Regions from separate parts of the Homo sapiens genome. Here all the other regions are reported to be linked to region 1. The links are microRNA targets in miRTarBase. Many come from high-throughput screens and were not tested one by one. Region 1 holds a microRNA gene; each other region holds the end of a gene's coding sequence.

Region 1 (3,010 bases):
TCCTGGAACACATACCCTTCCACATCCTGCAGCTCTGCTGCCCTGCACATATGCCATGCCGTCATCCTGCTGCAGCTCTGGCTGGGCCCGCAGCCTTTCCCCAAGAGCACCCAACACAGCAAGAAAGCCCACTGAAGTCCACCCCTTTCCCTCAGGACCTGAGTCTACCCTCAGGACCTGGGGTTGGTTGGACTCTGCCCTTCCAAATAAACCTTGCTAAGTCCAACTCTGTGCAACCTACATGGAGGTGGGGGCAGCCGATGCCTGGTCCAGGCTGTGAGGGACACGTATGGAGCAGATAAAGAATTCACTCAAGCAGTCCTAAGAGGCACTTTATTGCATAGGATTTGGGGACTGTGGCTCTCTACCCTTCCACTGTGTTGCAGGGAGCTCAGAGGATGGAGGGGAGTGTGAGTGGGGTGGGAGGAGAGGGAGAGAGCACAGGCAGGCACTTTTTGTGGGGGCAAGAGGGCTCTAGGGAGGGAGTAAGAAGCAGTGGGGGACAGGCTGGCACCAGCCTACACTTTCCCAGCACCAAGAGGCCAGCCCTGGGCGGCAGTGACTTGAGTGTGTTGGGTGGGGCGCCAGCCCAAGCAGCAGGGGGCAGCCTTCACACGTTCGCTGGGCTGTAGCACAGCAGGTGTAGCTGCAGGTTTTGGTCCCAGTGGCGCAGTAGCAGGAAGAGCCCTCGGGCTGCGGCCTTGAGGGCGGCCAGGTCAAGGCCGTCAGGCAAGTGCTGGGCCCGCAGCCAGCAATCAGCCTTGGCCGCTGTCAGTTCCCACTCGTCGAAGGCAGCGGCGCATCGGTGCTCCAGCCAGGCGAGTGCTACGGCAGTGGCCCAGGTCCGGCCCCGCAGGTCGGTGCCGCCCAGCCCTTCCGCCCCCTCGGAGGCCTCGGTGTCTGAGCCCCGCCCACTGTCCACCTGGCCTGGCCCCTCAGAGCCCGAGCTGGGGGACGGGCTGCAGGAGGCCGTGGCACTGTCACCCTGGCCAACACCAGGGCCCAGAAGTGCCCAGGGCAATGAGGCCGAGGTGGGGCTGAGGCTGGCGCGGTGCACGGCAAAGGGCGAGGCACGGCAGAGGCGCTCCTGCGAGATGCGCACAGCGGCGCAGAAGGGCGCGTCCAGGCGGAAGGAGCCTGGTGCCTCCTGCAGCCGCACCTGAGGAGAGAGGAGGTGGGGGGAGAAGCGAGCTGAAACAGCGCCCGGCCCCGGCGGCACCACCCTCCACCTCCCGAGTCCTCACCAAGGGCAGGTAGTCATGGTCGCTGCCTTCACTGTTGTTGGCCTGGCCCGGGTCAGGGCTACAGAGTTTGTGACGGCGGCCCATGCTGAGCCGACAGGGAGGACGGGGAGGTGGGCGGCGAGGACCTTCCGTGGGAGTGGCAGGGTCCCCCAAAGCACGCTTGGAGTTGCCATTTTGGTCCGAGTCCCAGGCGCCTGCTGGAGAGCCTCTCTGAAGTCCTGCAGTGGGGATCATCAGTGCCAGGGGGCGGTCTCTAAGCCCAAGTGCCCCTACCCTTTCCCTACCTTTGGGTGTTACCTTTAGAGTAGACAACAGTGGGCAGAGGAGCTGCATCTAGATGGCTGTGAGAGGCAGGAGGGGTTCCTGGGGGCTCAGCGGGCTCTGCAGGGGCACATGGGACAGGAGTCAGGTTTGTCCAGGAGAGTGGCCAGTGAGGTGAGAGCTGCACCTGAGAGGTCACCAGAAGAGGCCCCTACCTGAGCTGCACACCTGCAGGGCCCCAGGCAGGACCTCCCTAGTAGTAGCATCCACAGCTACAGGGCAAGTGAAGCAGGAGGGGGCAGAGCTGACCTTACTTGTCTGAAGGGCTCGAAGCCAGCACCTCCGGGCATGGCCTGTGGAACCAAGGAGCAGTCTGTGGAGCCCCCACCACCCACCCTCTACAGAGGGCTCATAGAAAAAATTGCAGTGTTCTCCCCAGCTTCTCCCTCTATCGACTTTAACAGAGTAGATTGCCTTGCTAGGCCCAGAACCAGCTCAGACTCCCCAACTTTGACAAGAAGTGATCAGGCTGAATCTTCAACCCATAGCAGAGCAAGAGCCCCCTGGCTGCCCAGAAATTCAGCACTCTGGACAACACCCAGAGGAAGCATTAGCTGGCACATTTTCCTCCACCTGCTTCTGCACTAATAAAACTTGGAAATGTTCTCTCTCTTCATGATCCAATGTGGTAGCCACTAGTCACATTTGACTATTGAGTACTTCAGCTGTGGTTAGTGCAACTGAGGAAATGAACTTTAAGTATTTTCCTAAATGACAAAGATTTGTTTTTACGTTGTGGGTGCTGTGAATCATGACAGGATCACGTTGCCCTCTGTGCTGGCTGCTAGGAAGCTTGTCAGTTCTGGATCTGATCCTTGCAAGAGTATATAACCTCACAGCATGCACCTTTAATATAACCTCATTCTCAGTTTCCTTTTATTTTTACTTTTTCCCATTGTCCCGCTTAATTTTTTATCTTGTCTGTGATGAGCCTCAAATCCTTTGTGATCAAAGCGAGGTATAGAGAGTGATCAAACACACAGACCTCTACCTTTGCTGTTTTTAGCCCATGCCTTTGGGTCCTGACTGGACCCATGAGCAACTCACCCCGGTCAGCTGTGGTCTCTGCCCCTCCTCGGAGGGCCAGCTGCTCATTGTCCCGGACCACAGAGGCTGCTGTCAGCCGATGGAGTGCTTGGTCCCAAGCAGCTTCTCTTACAGGAGGTGAGGGAGGCTGTGAGCCATCTCCAGGTCCCCACAGTGTCTCCAGCCCAACACCCACCTCCCAGCACATGGGCTGCTCCCCACACAGGCCCCGGATCACCACATGGCAGCGTGGAGCCTGGGGAGGCACTGCTGGAGGGGCCAACTCCCCACTAGGAGGCACAGCCGTGAATAAGAAGGGTGGTTCCATCAGCATGTCCCAGTCCATAGGGGCTGGGGAGAGCAGGTTTCCTGGGGAGGCAAGACAGCAGGGGCATGGGCAGAGTGGTCCTCTGGGCTTT
Region 2 (5,490 bases), not on the chromosome of region 1:
CTTCGCTTCAAACTTCCACAGCAGAAGAGTTGGAATTCTAATGCCGCAATATCGTTGTAATACCAGGGATTCTCTAGAGGCAAGTTAAGGCTTTCTGGGCAAAGAAAACAATTCCAGATGATATTGTGATAGAATGCTACAGTGAAATGCTTCTTAATGACTCTCCTGTCCTGCCTAAAGGACAAAGACCTATGAGTGACTTCAACTTGACGTGATGTTTCAGTGATCTTTTACTTCAGCTCTAAGTCAGAATCAATGCCACAGGAAAAGAAAAGCTTCTTACATCTCAGACATCTGCTTGCTGAGCAAACACAAACAAGAACACATGTATTGTTTCCCAGGAGCTGGCAAACTAGATCTCAAGTCACACAGTTACAAAGAGAGCTCTCATTCAGATGCCGGGCATATAAGCTCAGCTACCCAGAAAGTTCAGCTTTAATGAAGACTGTAGTTTTAGAATGAAAGCCTGAGCAGGAAGGATTTCTGCCCTGGGAATTCTCAATGCTCTGCCTGAGTCACACTGGAGGATGGAGATAGGCTCCTCATTCCAGCGGCCAGCAGCTGCCACAGTCACAAGACCACCCTCCAAACAGCAAGGGTCTTACGATGACAACGGGGACTCTGAAGAGAAGCCAGTCAAAGACACAGGGCTTTGGACAAGATCAAGGGTCTTCACCAGGAAAGCTTAATGCAGAAGCCCCCTCCCTCCAAGTCCCCTCAGCGTGAGCCTTGAGCCTTGACACAGCTGTTTCCACCTGCAAGGGCTGGAGAGGCCAAGTTCACGCAGATGTTCAGCAATGTTCAAGCAAATGATGTGTAAATAGATGAAGTGGTCTTAGAGATGGTCTAAGAGGAGGGAACAGGCTCAGAGAGGTGAGGTGATTTGCCCACGATCCAATGTGAATTAGAGACCATTAGGACACGAACTCAGGTATATTTCCACTCTTACGGTGAATCATAAGGTTCCCAGTAAGTGTAAAATGCTGCAGAGAGGTTAAAAGAATATTGTAACCAACAGCTTTCTGCTTTCATTCTGCTCTGGAATCATTTGTGTAAACTCACAGCAGGAAAAGATAACAGTTTTCTTCAAGTCTGTTAAACTCACTTCTAACATAAAAACATTAAAGAAACTTGACACCATTTTTTGAGTCAGTTAATCCTAATTTGACTGGAATCAGTTACTTGTAAGTGTCTTCAAATTGCTTATGAGACACGGAGTGCTACAGGAGAGATGTGGGTGCTTCTCCCCATTGGTTTTTAACATATTATTCCTGCAATGGAATTGTCCAGATTGATGCAATTTATAGCCTCAATTTGATTCTAAAATATATTCAAATACTCTTTAAAAATTCAGCCTTGTTTTAGCCCAAATAGAACCTTACTAGCAAGAGGGGGATTCATATACTCATCAGAAATGAATGACTTTGGGAAGAAAGGCAAGGACACCTGGAGGAAGGAAAAAAGATGACCTATCTATAAACTGCCACTCCCTCATTTATCAGGCAAGTTTGCAGCTCTGTGAATTCAATGCCTCTGTGCTCTCATTCAGGGACAAACAAGAATTTTCCTGTAAGACAGCCACAGTCACATTCTCATTTCCATGCCTAAGAGCCTGAAGCTTGAACAAAGGGCTTCAGTTAGTTTCATGTGAGCCAAAATGGAATGTGAGTGCCATTCAGAGCCACACACTAAAAAGATTTCAGCTGGGACACTGGCTCCCACAGTCCTGGGGGAGCAAATTCCGGTTGTGTGGCAACAAAGGCTATGCTGCCAGCCCTGCCTGTCCTCCACAGGGGCCACCAGGACTGCCGTGCAGACCAGGCTCCACCCTCCCCCACACCGGTTTGTGTGACAACAGGGCTGTCTTTTCTCTTCCTGAATTTCTGAATGGAGCTGGTACATGGGCCAGCCACTATTTTGTCAGAACAGGTTAAGGGGTGTGGCCTCAGGCATATGAAAGGAGCCTCTCGCTCTTCTGGGGTGGTGATTCAGTCCTAGGAAGTTATTGCTTGGTTTACCTATTCTCATAAAAAGTCTTGATAAATGAAGGTAGTAGTAGCAGAAATATGACTATGAATGTTCTAGATCACAGCTGTAGTTGGGTGAAGGGAAAAGTAACAGAGGAGAGGGGCTAACTTCCAAACTGAGAGGGTAAAGTGCCAGTCTGTGCTAAAAGAACGTGAAAAGGAAACCTATTAGAGAAATAATACACTGGGGGGAAAGTCATAATGATAGAGGCTGGTGAGTGCCAGAAATTATACCAAAGCGAAGTTGAGACCACAGAAATCTCAGTCTCTGAGATAAGGGCTGCTTTTGATGTCATTCGGATGATTTGGTGATTGTCAGAAAACAACTTCTTCAGGTTACAGACCTGGACCCATGCCCACGGGTCCCGTCACAGTCACTTGGACCCGTGCCCAAACCACACCCACCTGTGGCCCTGAGGGTTGGCACTCAGGCGCCCAGGTGGCTCCTTTGATCCCTGAAACATCCATGCAGACCCACTACTTATATTCCAGTCTGTCCTGGAGTCAAAGGAGATGAAGGAGGAAAAATATCTTTTTAAAGTATCCAGGCAATTTTACTCATAGTTCTGTTTAGTTCCAGATAGCAACAGCTGATTGTTCAAAGTGCAGGGTTTTTGGATATTCAAGTACCACAGGATCGGAGAAAAGGAGTACTTGAAACCTAGAGTTGCGTTTTCACTTGAGAAGACACACTTTGGAAACACCTATCCAACAGACTACAAATATAGGCTATTAAATTAAAAATCTGGTTTCAAAATAATACCCACTTAGGTTGGAAATATCTTTCTCCAAACTCAGATCCAACTTTTGAATTGTTTGGTATCAAAGGCAAAGTTAGAGGGACTTGGGTTTAAAAACTAAAATTACAAGTGAGTGCTTAAAAAAAAAACAACTCAAAACATCTTTTTATCAAATAAGGGACACACACACACAAAAGGCAAACGATGATATCTACATGCTTAGACTGGGAGAGCAGCTCCCAGGCTCCCCTGGAGGGATGTTCTCTCAAACCTCAGTAAACTGAGTTTGTCATTGAACTTTGAACCTGGTAGTGAGCTCAGCAATCTACCTGGTCCAAGTCCCCCATTTTAGAGGTGAAGAAATTGAAGTCCACAGCGACTTTGTCCAGGGTGAAAAGCAGAGCCAGGGCACAGCCCAGATGCTCAGCCCACCCAGAGCCCTTCTGAGACATCACACTGTGGTCACACGACGGCAGCTCCATAGCCGGCCTTGCTGCTCTGGAGACCGTGGGAGCTAGAGGACACCCCTGATTATGAATTTCAATAAAACGAGCTGCAAAGATGTTTCCAATTTAAGGGCGCTGTTGAACAGCATTTCCAAAATTTGCTTGGTGATGAGAATCATCTGGGGCACTTGTGAAAAATTAAAATCCCCAGGCTCCTTCCCAGACCCAGTGAATCAGCCTCTCCGAGGGGAGGGACCTGGGAGGCTGAATTTTTAACAAGTGCCTCACGTAACTCTCAGCAGCAGCAAAGCGTAGGGAAATGGTCTCAGGAGACAGGGCGAAAACTTGGCTTGTGACTCAAAGGAATTTCCTTTGCCGTTTAAGAAGCCACACTCTGGCCTGGGAAGCCTGGGTTCTCAGGCTCCCAAGCGGAGCTGTGTCTTCAGCATTGGCCTGGAAGGGTGAGCTCTTTTTAAGGTCTATGTAAGGACACATACAACCACCACAAAATGACATACATCCTTCACTGTTCTCAGGGAAAAGCCTTTTGGTGGCAAAGCAAAATCGCTATTCAGACACATTTTTAATAGGGAAACTAGATGTACTTGGCTTAAAAGCAACCAGATGCTGAAACTGGACAGAGGGCAAGAACTCTGTCACTTGTCACCATGCCTAACAATGCAATGGAGAAAACCAGTAACTAAGCACAAAAATAGCCTGGAGCTCCCAGGAAGAGCTGCCTACTCCGAGACAGGTGTGCATGGTGGGTGCCCCCTGCTGATGGTGTGAGGTCAGATCCAGGTCACTGAGGGAGATGGGAGACCTGAAACAGGGGGTGAGGGGACGCAGCTTCCAGAGGAGGGCTGCTGGAGCGTGCCAGAGTCCGGAGGCCTCACTCCAGGTCGGCCTCCACCTGCTCCGTGTCAGAGCACTGCAACTTGTTACGCTCCCATTGGCAAATGGCGTTGGCGTACTCCACCACCAGCTTATCCATCCATGTCAGGGGCTCGGGGAACAGCACAGAGCCCTCAAAGAAGCCCAAGTGGCCCCCATGCAGAGGCAGCACAAACATGACGTTCTCTCGTTTCTCTGCAGGGGAAACGCAGCTGAGTGAGTTACTGTTCTCTAGTTTGCTCCAGGACAGGAGGTGCAGAGGTGAGCTGGCTAGGGTAGCCTGGCTGTCCCCGCAGGGTCACCTAAGTGGGCATCCAACCTCTACTCACTCTGCCTTGTTCACCAAAGAGGGGGCAGGCAAGACAGTGGCATCTAGCAGGTTTTAGAGTACAGCTTGGCTTTGGAGCTGAATGGGCACCAGCTGAAGAAAGCCTTAGAACTCTAAAGGGTTCTCAAACTCGGCTGCATATTAGAATCAGTTGTGGAGTTCTTAAAGCTCCTTAACCCCAGGCTGGCCCAGATGAATTAAATCAGAATCTCTGGGGGTGGGAGGTGGGAGAGGAGTGAGGGAAGGGAATTCCCAAGTGTTGGTATTGCTCAAGCTCCCCAGGTGATTCAATGTGTTTCCTAACTTTGTGCATCAAAATCACTTAGGATATCTTATTAAAATGCGGATTTTGATTTAATAAGCCTGAAGTGGGAGCTGAGATTCTGCATTTTTAAAAAGTTCCCAGGTGATGCCCATGGTAGTGGTGGGGGCCAGGCTCTGAGTAGCGATTCATGGCATTTACAGTATTTTTACTAGAGAACGAGGAGAATTCAATGGAGTCAATGAGTTTTCACTACAGACATTTATCTTCAAGATCCTTAAAGCTGCACGTTGTGTTAAAAGATGCCCAAGCTCTCAACGCCACATGCTAAGTGGCCATCCTGAGAAATAATAACCTAGAGCTTGACTTTATTTTTTATTTTTTTGGGACAGAGTCTCAGCTCACTGCAACCTCCACTCTCGGGTTCAAGCGATTCTCATGCCTCAGCCTCTCCAGTAGCATGTACCACCACGCCTGGCTAATTTTTGTATTTTTAGTAGAGATGGGGTTTCACCATGTTGGCCAGGCTGATCTCAAACTCCTGACCTCAAGTGATCTGCCTACCTCGGCCTCCCAAAGTGCTGGGATTTATAGGCATGAGCCACCACACTTGGCCCAGTTGCTTCTATTTGTATGTTTCAAGCAGATGGAGAGGCTGTCACAAGAGATAGCAGAACCGGATTTTTTGTTTTGCTTTTCAAGTCAAATTTTATTTTATTTTTTACTATTTATTTATTTTTAGAGACAGAATCTTGCTCTGTTGCCCAGGCTGGAGTGCAGTGGCACAATCATA
Region 3 (3,000 bases), not on the chromosome of region 1:
GTATAAATCTGGAGGCTCAGTTCAATGCTGAGGTTTTATGTGAGCACATTGTTTCTTCTATGTGATGGTACTTAGTATGGGAATGAAGTTACACAAAACAACAGCAATTTGTTCAGCTTGAGACCTAATTCATAACTTAAAACCATAGTGATAAAAATTCTTTCCCCCTGTTTTAGAGAGGAACCTTAACCCCAAAGCAGCCTGCCTTAAGAGAAGGGAAGAAGAAAAAGTTTCTGCCGTATCGGCAGAGCCGCCAACCACACTGCCAGGAACCCATCCTGGGCTTAGTGAAACTACCAACCCTATGGGTCATATGTAAACATCAGCCAGGTAAGTACGGGTTTGAAAAGAAACAGCAAGGAAATAACCTTAAGATTCATCTTAAACTGGGTTAGAATCTTTGAACAGAATTCTCTAGTGAGCAGTGGCCATTGTAAAGGTCACATGTAATTTGAAATATAACAGTTTGTCTTTCTGTTACATTATCAGACTTAGAGAGCCAGTGTCATTTTATAGCAAATTGCCATTTTCTTCAAAGTGTGGCAGTATCTTGTGACTTTGGTTCTTCTGTTCGGAGTCATCATGTGTACTCTCTTACATGAGTATCTTCCTGATCCAAGAAGAAATAGTACAATGACTCAACCGTCAGAAAACGCTCTTGTTACCACTCATGTTCTTCATTTCTTTATTCAGAAATGCTGACTATATCATCAACCAGTTTTCTGCCAATTATCTAGCTTTTTGTCATGAAGCCTTTATACATGAAAAAGTTATCACTTGTATTTGGATCAATAATGCAAGTTTATGATATGATGCTTCTTCCCCACTTGCAAGCACATCAGTTAACACCCTCTAGAATCTATTAATGAATGGGAAGTTATTATATATGTTAGAGCCAGAATGCCCTTCTCTCTGGTGGAATTTTACTTGTTCAAAGACTGTTCTTTATATCTTCCTTTTCATGGACTAAACATAATTCAGTTCCTTGTGATTTTTTTTTTTTTTCCTCAAGACAGAGTCTCGCTCTGTTGCCCAGGCTGGAGTGCAGTGGCACGATCTCAGCTAACTGCAGTCTCTGCTTCCCAGGTTCCAGCAATTCTCCTGCCTCAGCCTCCCGAGTAGACTAGCTGGGATTACAGGTGTGCACCACCATGCCCGGCTAATTTTTGTATTTTTAGTAGAGATGGGATTTCACGATGTTGGCCAGGCTGGTCTCGAACTCCTAACCTCAGGTGATCCACCCGCCTCAGCCTCCCAAAGTGCTAGGATTACAGGCATGAGCCACCTCGCCCAGCTGGTAACTTCATTTTTATAATCTGCTTTCAGCAGTATGTAGTTTTTTTCCCAATTTTATCAACAGATTAAAGGTAGTAAGTAAAGGCAGATGAGTGCGGGGTGTGGAACAGAAAAAAATATCAAGTGCAGTTTCATTTGGTCAGTTTCGTGGCTGTCTCATTTTGAACTGAAAGTCTGGAATTTGATAGATTGTTTGATAGATAAACTACAAATATTAGTAACTCACCTTTTCCTGAGGGTTTTAGTTCCTACCGCCACTACATATATAGGGTCAAATGAGACTACATATAGGGTCAAATGAGACTACATATAGGGTCAAACCAGACCACAAAGAAGATTTCATTTAGGGTAAAAGAAAAGAAGAGTTAAGGCAGTTATTTCGTAAGTCAGTTATAACTGTAACATTAGCACACTGGAGAAAACCTCAAACTACCTCCCCCACAAAAAGTATCCAGCAATCTAACAGATTGTACATGTCAGGGACTTTAGGCAAGAGCTAGTTTACAGATCCTCTAAAACCTAGATCATTGTTTCATACTCTGTAGAAAATATAGACTACTATGAAACAGTAAGTATTTTTGCTTCAAAAATAAACTTTGAAGTTTTTTTGTTTGTTCTGGGATTTTTTTGTTGTTGTTGTTGTTTGTTTGTTTGTTTTGAGATGGAGTTTGACTCTGTCGCCTGAGCTGGAGTGCAATGGTGTGATCATCTCGGCTCACTCCAACTCCCGCCTCCTGGGTTTGAGCAATTCTTCCACCTCAGCCTCCTGAGTAGCTGGGATTACAGACATACACCACCACGCCCAGCTAATTTTTTTGTATTTTTAGTAGAGACAGCGTTTCGCCAGGCTGCCCAGCCTGGTCTCAAACTCCTGACCTCAAGCGATCCGACCACCTCGGCTTCCCCAAGTGCTGGCGTTACAGGCGTGAGCCGCTGAGCCCGGCCAAAAAATTAACTTTGAAGTTTTAAAATAAAACCATGCCACTATTTCTCAGTGCAAAAGAGACTTTCTAAACTGATAGATTATTTCAAAGAAGAGTGATGGGAGAGGTAACTTATGCTCAGGTCCCAGATAACCACCAAGCTGTGAAAAAGAGCACTAGGCATTCTGCCCTAACACTTCTCTTGGAGCCTGTGTCTTATTTTTCTTGTCTCGCTCTAGTTAGTTCTACCCATTTCCTCTTGTTTTCTTCTCAGTCTCTCTTACTCGTTCAACTTTGTCTTCTTATTCTCATCTCGTTTCCTTCTGTTTACTTCCTGTGCTTTTACTACTTCTCTATTTCATACTGCTCTCATAGCTCTACCTTTATCTCTTTATAATGTGGAAATTTTCCCACTTAGGTTAAAATTAAACTTTGGGCATTCCCACCTATCAAAAAAGGATCAAGAATTCTTTTAAGTTTAAAAAGGCATCAAGATATGAGACATGTAGTGAATGCACTTTGTTCCATAGATTGTATAGGCTAGTGTTTGTCATCTTAGAATATGTGTTAAGGTTGCTAATTTCATAAAGATAGTTATCTGGTTTCATAAATTGGATAGCAGATTAAAAGTAGCAAGAGACAGGGCAGCAGGAACAATGCTACTAGAATCAAAATGGCTAAGACATGACCACAGAATGACTGGTTATAAACGTACAAAAATTTGCCATCCTGTAATGTAGGCCAAGTAGCTTTGAATATCTTAGTTTTCCGTCCCTAAGAG
Region 4 (3,305 bases), not on the chromosome of region 1:
GGGCAGTGCTAGGTGGACACCTGCAGGCCTCACATGCCTGGCCTTGGAGGCTCCGGGCAGCGTAGCTCAAGCTGTTTTCTTTCTGAGTGTGATCCCGTTCCCTGGGCTTCCCTGATGCCATCATGGAGCCTCTTAGGGCTGGTCCCTCAGGTGGGTAAGGGCTGGGCCTGTCCTGCTGTGAAGGCTCCTTCCTCACTGAACCCTCCCGTCCCCCAGGTAACGTGAACATTATTCAGCCTAACTATCCTGCGGCAGCCCGTGACTTCCTGCAGACTTTCCGCCGTGGGCTGCTGGGTTCCGTGATGCTGGACCTCGACGTCCTGCGGGGCCACCCCCCGGCTGAGACTTTGCCCTGAACTTGTCCGGGTAGGGAGGGCCGGAGGCATGTGGCCTCCCAGACCTCCTGACCTGGGTGGTTGAGGCTCAAGACAGCTCACCCGGTCCAGAAGCTCCATGCTGGTCACTAGGGTGCTGTGCTCTCTGGCGCCCCACAGCCTGGCCAGCTCCAGGGACCCCAGTTGCAGGGCCCAAGCAGGTGGGAGTGGACACCAGGCTTCCCAGTGGACGTCCCTGAGCAGCTCCGCATGCTTGGTTCTCCCGGAGCTTCCTGCTCAGGCCTCTTGAGAAATGGATGCTGTCTCAGAAGGAGTTAAAGCTATAACCTGTAACCTTTAAAATCTCCAGTTAAAGGGCCTGTTTCTTACTGGCCTGTGAGGTGCACCGTAGTGCCTTGGGCCTGTGTGTTAAAGCTGCTCTCACCAGTGAAACCTAAGAAATGAGCAGGTTGGCAGCTAGGGTTTGTGTTGGAGGCTTTCGGTCCAGTGTCTTGCAGTCCTACAACAAGTGAGAGGCTTGCTGCCATCAGAGAGGTTTATTTCACACTTACAGGCACACACAGACACAGACCAGAGACTCCCAGCAGCAGAGCCCAAGCACTGGCTTCGCCCCTCAGTGCCCTGGGGCATGTTCAGGGCAGGGTTGAGGGGGACGCCCTGCACATGGCTTTGCTGTGCAATGACTGGAAGGCCGCCCGGCATGGGCAGTAGAGACCCCTGGCCTCTGAGCACCTTCTAGCTCACGGGTAGTGGGATTCTGCATTAGTGGGGCTGAGAGATGTGGGGGCCCCTCCAGCCCCATTATAGTGCACCTGAAGGGGTCCACAGCCTGTGTCCTAGAAGAGGGAAGAGGAAGGAAGGTGGGTGGGGCTGGTAGTATGGACTAAGGTGCTGCAGGACCTGGGGCCAGGGACATCCTGTGCAGAAGCTCCGGCTGCCTCTTTGCGGTGGTGGCCTGACCGTCCCACAGCAGCCTCCACCAGGGCCCTGGTGCTCAGTGGCCCCTCTTTGCTGGCTGGCTGCCTCTGCTGCCCCATACCCCACACACTCATCAGCCTGAAGTTAGCCCCTGAGTGCCACCTGCATCGTGCCATAACCCTGACCGCCTGGGGCAGGAAGTATTCAGGTTGGCTGTGTCAGATGCTAATGTGCTGAATCAACAGTCATTGCAGATCACGAAGTGTCCATCATAACTGGAACATTCCATCAGCTTGCAGTGCTGTGGTGTGTGAGGGTCTGGTGCAGCTCAGCCCATTTTCCAGGTGGGCATCTGCAAAGTTGAGGGGGCTCCGGTGGGTCTCTCTGCTGTGAGGAGACTCAGACCACCCCCTGCCTCCTGGGGGAAATGTCAGAAGGGCTTCTCTGCCTATGAGGATCTGGGGCAGGGCTTGGCCTTGGCCTGCTGGTCTTGGAGGCGTTGAGCTTGGTCTGGAAGGGGTGGAGGAGCGTCTGGGCTCACTGGGCCAGGGGCATTGCTGGCAGTGTGGACGGGAGGCTGCAGGGCGCTGCCTCCTGTGGCTTAGTGCCCTGGAGCTAGAGAGCAGTGCTTGGTTGAGTCCTGCCAACAGCTTCCAGATCCTCACCCAGGCCAGAACCCAGGCCAGCTGGGGAAGGCAGAGGCTGGCAGGGCCCGTGGTGGGTGCTGGTCTTGACTTTGGTGTCCACTGAGTCCCGAGGCTCAGGCCCAGGAGGGATGCAGTCCGGCTGAGGGCGAGGCTGTCCCCAGGACATGGAGAGGGTGAGATCCCAAGGCCACGGCGGGGGGCAGGGAGAACCCCTCCTACCCTGGATGAGTGGGTGACTGGAGAGCTAGAGAACGTGGCAGACCCAAGACCTCTCAGTGCTGAGCCCATGGAGGATGCCCCAGGCTGGCGGGACTGGGAAGCAGAGGGCTGGTCTTAACACAGGTGTGTCCAGTGCTGGAGGCAAGTCCTTGTCGTGACTGTCCAGCGCCACTCCATGTCTCTCCTGTCCTTGGATGTTGGGGGGCTCAGCCTCTTGCATGGGTGTCCTGCTGGGCGCTGGGCCCCGCCACTGGCCCCCTGCTTGCTTTGGGGTCTGAGTTAGCTCCTGGCTCCACTGAGCAGGCCGTCAGCTGCCAGCCCACCACGCGGATACCCAGGCCCTGTTCCGAGGCCTGGAACAGCTGCTTCCGAAGAAGGGGCTGCCTTCAGGGAAATGCGTGCACCGTGCAGCCTGTGCTGTGCCCAGGGAGGCCTCTTCAGCGGGATTGGCAGTTGCTGTGCCCTGAGAACAGGCAGAACTGTGTGATCCCTGAATGTGAACCTGAAGTTCAAAGGACTTGGAAAGCTCTGGAATGTGTTGGTTTTTCCCCCCCAAAATGGGTCCTAAGGAGGGTAAAGTGACTTGTTTCAAGTTGTTGGAGCAAAGTGGGTCTCTCACGGATCTCGGCCTGAGGGTGTGGGGGAGAAGGCCTGGACAGCCCCTCAGGGCAGGGTGTGTTTTCCCACCAGCCGCAGAGAGCCAGGATGGACGTTCCTCGGACGGACGGTTTTCCTGCTTGGGAATGTTCCTGGGCTGTGAGATCCACTCTTCTGGGCAGGTGGTTAGCACCTAACGTTTTTCCCTCACTTCCCCCCAAATTCTTAAGTCCTTTGGTCCATTTCACTGCTTCTTTTGGGGAGGGTCAGATTCCTCAGGGGCTCAGTGGCAGAACCAGCCTGATGTCGCCTCCCTGCCCGTGAGTCACCACGGCCCCTGGGCAGGCGAGGGGAGCCGGGGTGGCTTGGGTTCCTGGCCTTGGCACCTCCCTTTGGGCGGCGATGGAGCGTGGCTGGGCGGTTGGTACAGGAGCCACAGGCAGCTGCCTTTTTGGCTGAGGGGACCCTAACATCCTGGAGTGGGTGGGGCAGGGCCCATGGTCTCCTCTAGGTGGGAGGTGGCAGGCTGAGGCGGCGTGGGCAGGACGGTGGATGGCGGGTCCACAGGGACAGCCAGCAGCTCCTGCAC

Evidence for each region. Region 1 holds the annotated microRNA hsa-miR-1224-3p (CCCCACCUCCUCUCUCCUCAG, at 1,160-1,180, opposite strand). A microRNA usually pairs through its seed, bases 2 to 8, with sites in the 3' UTR of a target mRNA and lowers its output. Matches are read on the target gene's strand: a 7mer-m8 pairs with bases 2 to 8, a 7mer-A1 pairs with bases 2 to 7 and ends in A, and an 8mer does both.
Region 2: the mRNA of ABHD2 is a reported target of hsa-miR-1224-3p. Seed matches in the 3' UTR shown: 7mer-m8 at 2,428-2,434.
Region 3: miRTarBase lists TCF12 as a target of hsa-miR-1224-3p. The part of its 3' UTR that is shown has no 7-base or 8-base seed match.
Region 4: miRTarBase lists MTG1 as a target of hsa-miR-1224-3p. Seed matches in the 3' UTR shown: 8mer at 534-541, 7mer-m8 at 1,194-1,200 and 7mer-m8 at 1,596-1,602.

Annotation. Positions count from the first base shown.
Region 1 is chr3:184,239,639-184,242,648 of GRCh38, reverse strand. MIR1224 (microRNA 1224) reads right to left here and starts at 1,244; the gene lies at 1,160-1,244. VWA5B2 (von Willebrand factor A domain containing 5B2) reads right to left here. Exons shown (of 20, transcript NM_001390846.1): 16 at 2,613-2,960; 17 at 1,721-1,858; 18 at 1,542-1,625; 19 at 1,245-1,462; 20 at 320-1,159. The coding sequence ends at 611. ALG3 (ALG3 alpha-1,3- mannosyltransferase) reads left to right here. Exons shown (of 9, transcript NM_005787.6): 9 at 1-348. The coding sequence ends at 135. RefSeq lists a silencer at 434-728.
Region 2 is chr15:89,194,039-89,199,528 of GRCh38, reverse strand. ABHD2 (abhydrolase domain containing 2, acylglycerol lipase) reads right to left here. Exons shown (of 11, transcript NM_152924.5): 11 at 1-4,302. The coding sequence ends at 4,106. It also overlaps the pseudogene LOC124903574. Among named protein-coding and RNA genes, the nearest start is that of RLBP1, 25 kb to the left of the region's middle. RefSeq lists a silencer at 1,597-1,891 and enhancers at 3,657-4,157, 4,158-4,658.
Region 3 is chr15:57,282,269-57,285,268 of GRCh38, forward strand. TCF12 (transcription factor 12) reads left to right here. Exons shown (of 21, transcript NM_207037.2): 20 at 177-330. The coding sequence ends at 319. Among named protein-coding and RNA genes, the nearest start is that of SNORD13D, 5.1 kb to the left of the region's middle. RefSeq lists an enhancer at 2,511-2,570.
Region 4 is chr10:133,419,810-133,423,114 of GRCh38, forward strand. It overlaps MTG1 (mitochondrial ribosome associated GTPase 1), which reads left to right. Exons shown (of 11, transcript NM_138384.4): 11 at 217-2,711. The coding sequence ends at 356. It overlaps SPRN (shadow of prion protein), which reads right to left. Exons shown (of 2, transcript NM_001391974.1): 2 at 857-3,305. Among named protein-coding and RNA genes, the nearest start is that of SPRN, 3.2 kb to the right of the region's middle. RefSeq lists an enhancer at 3,194-3,305.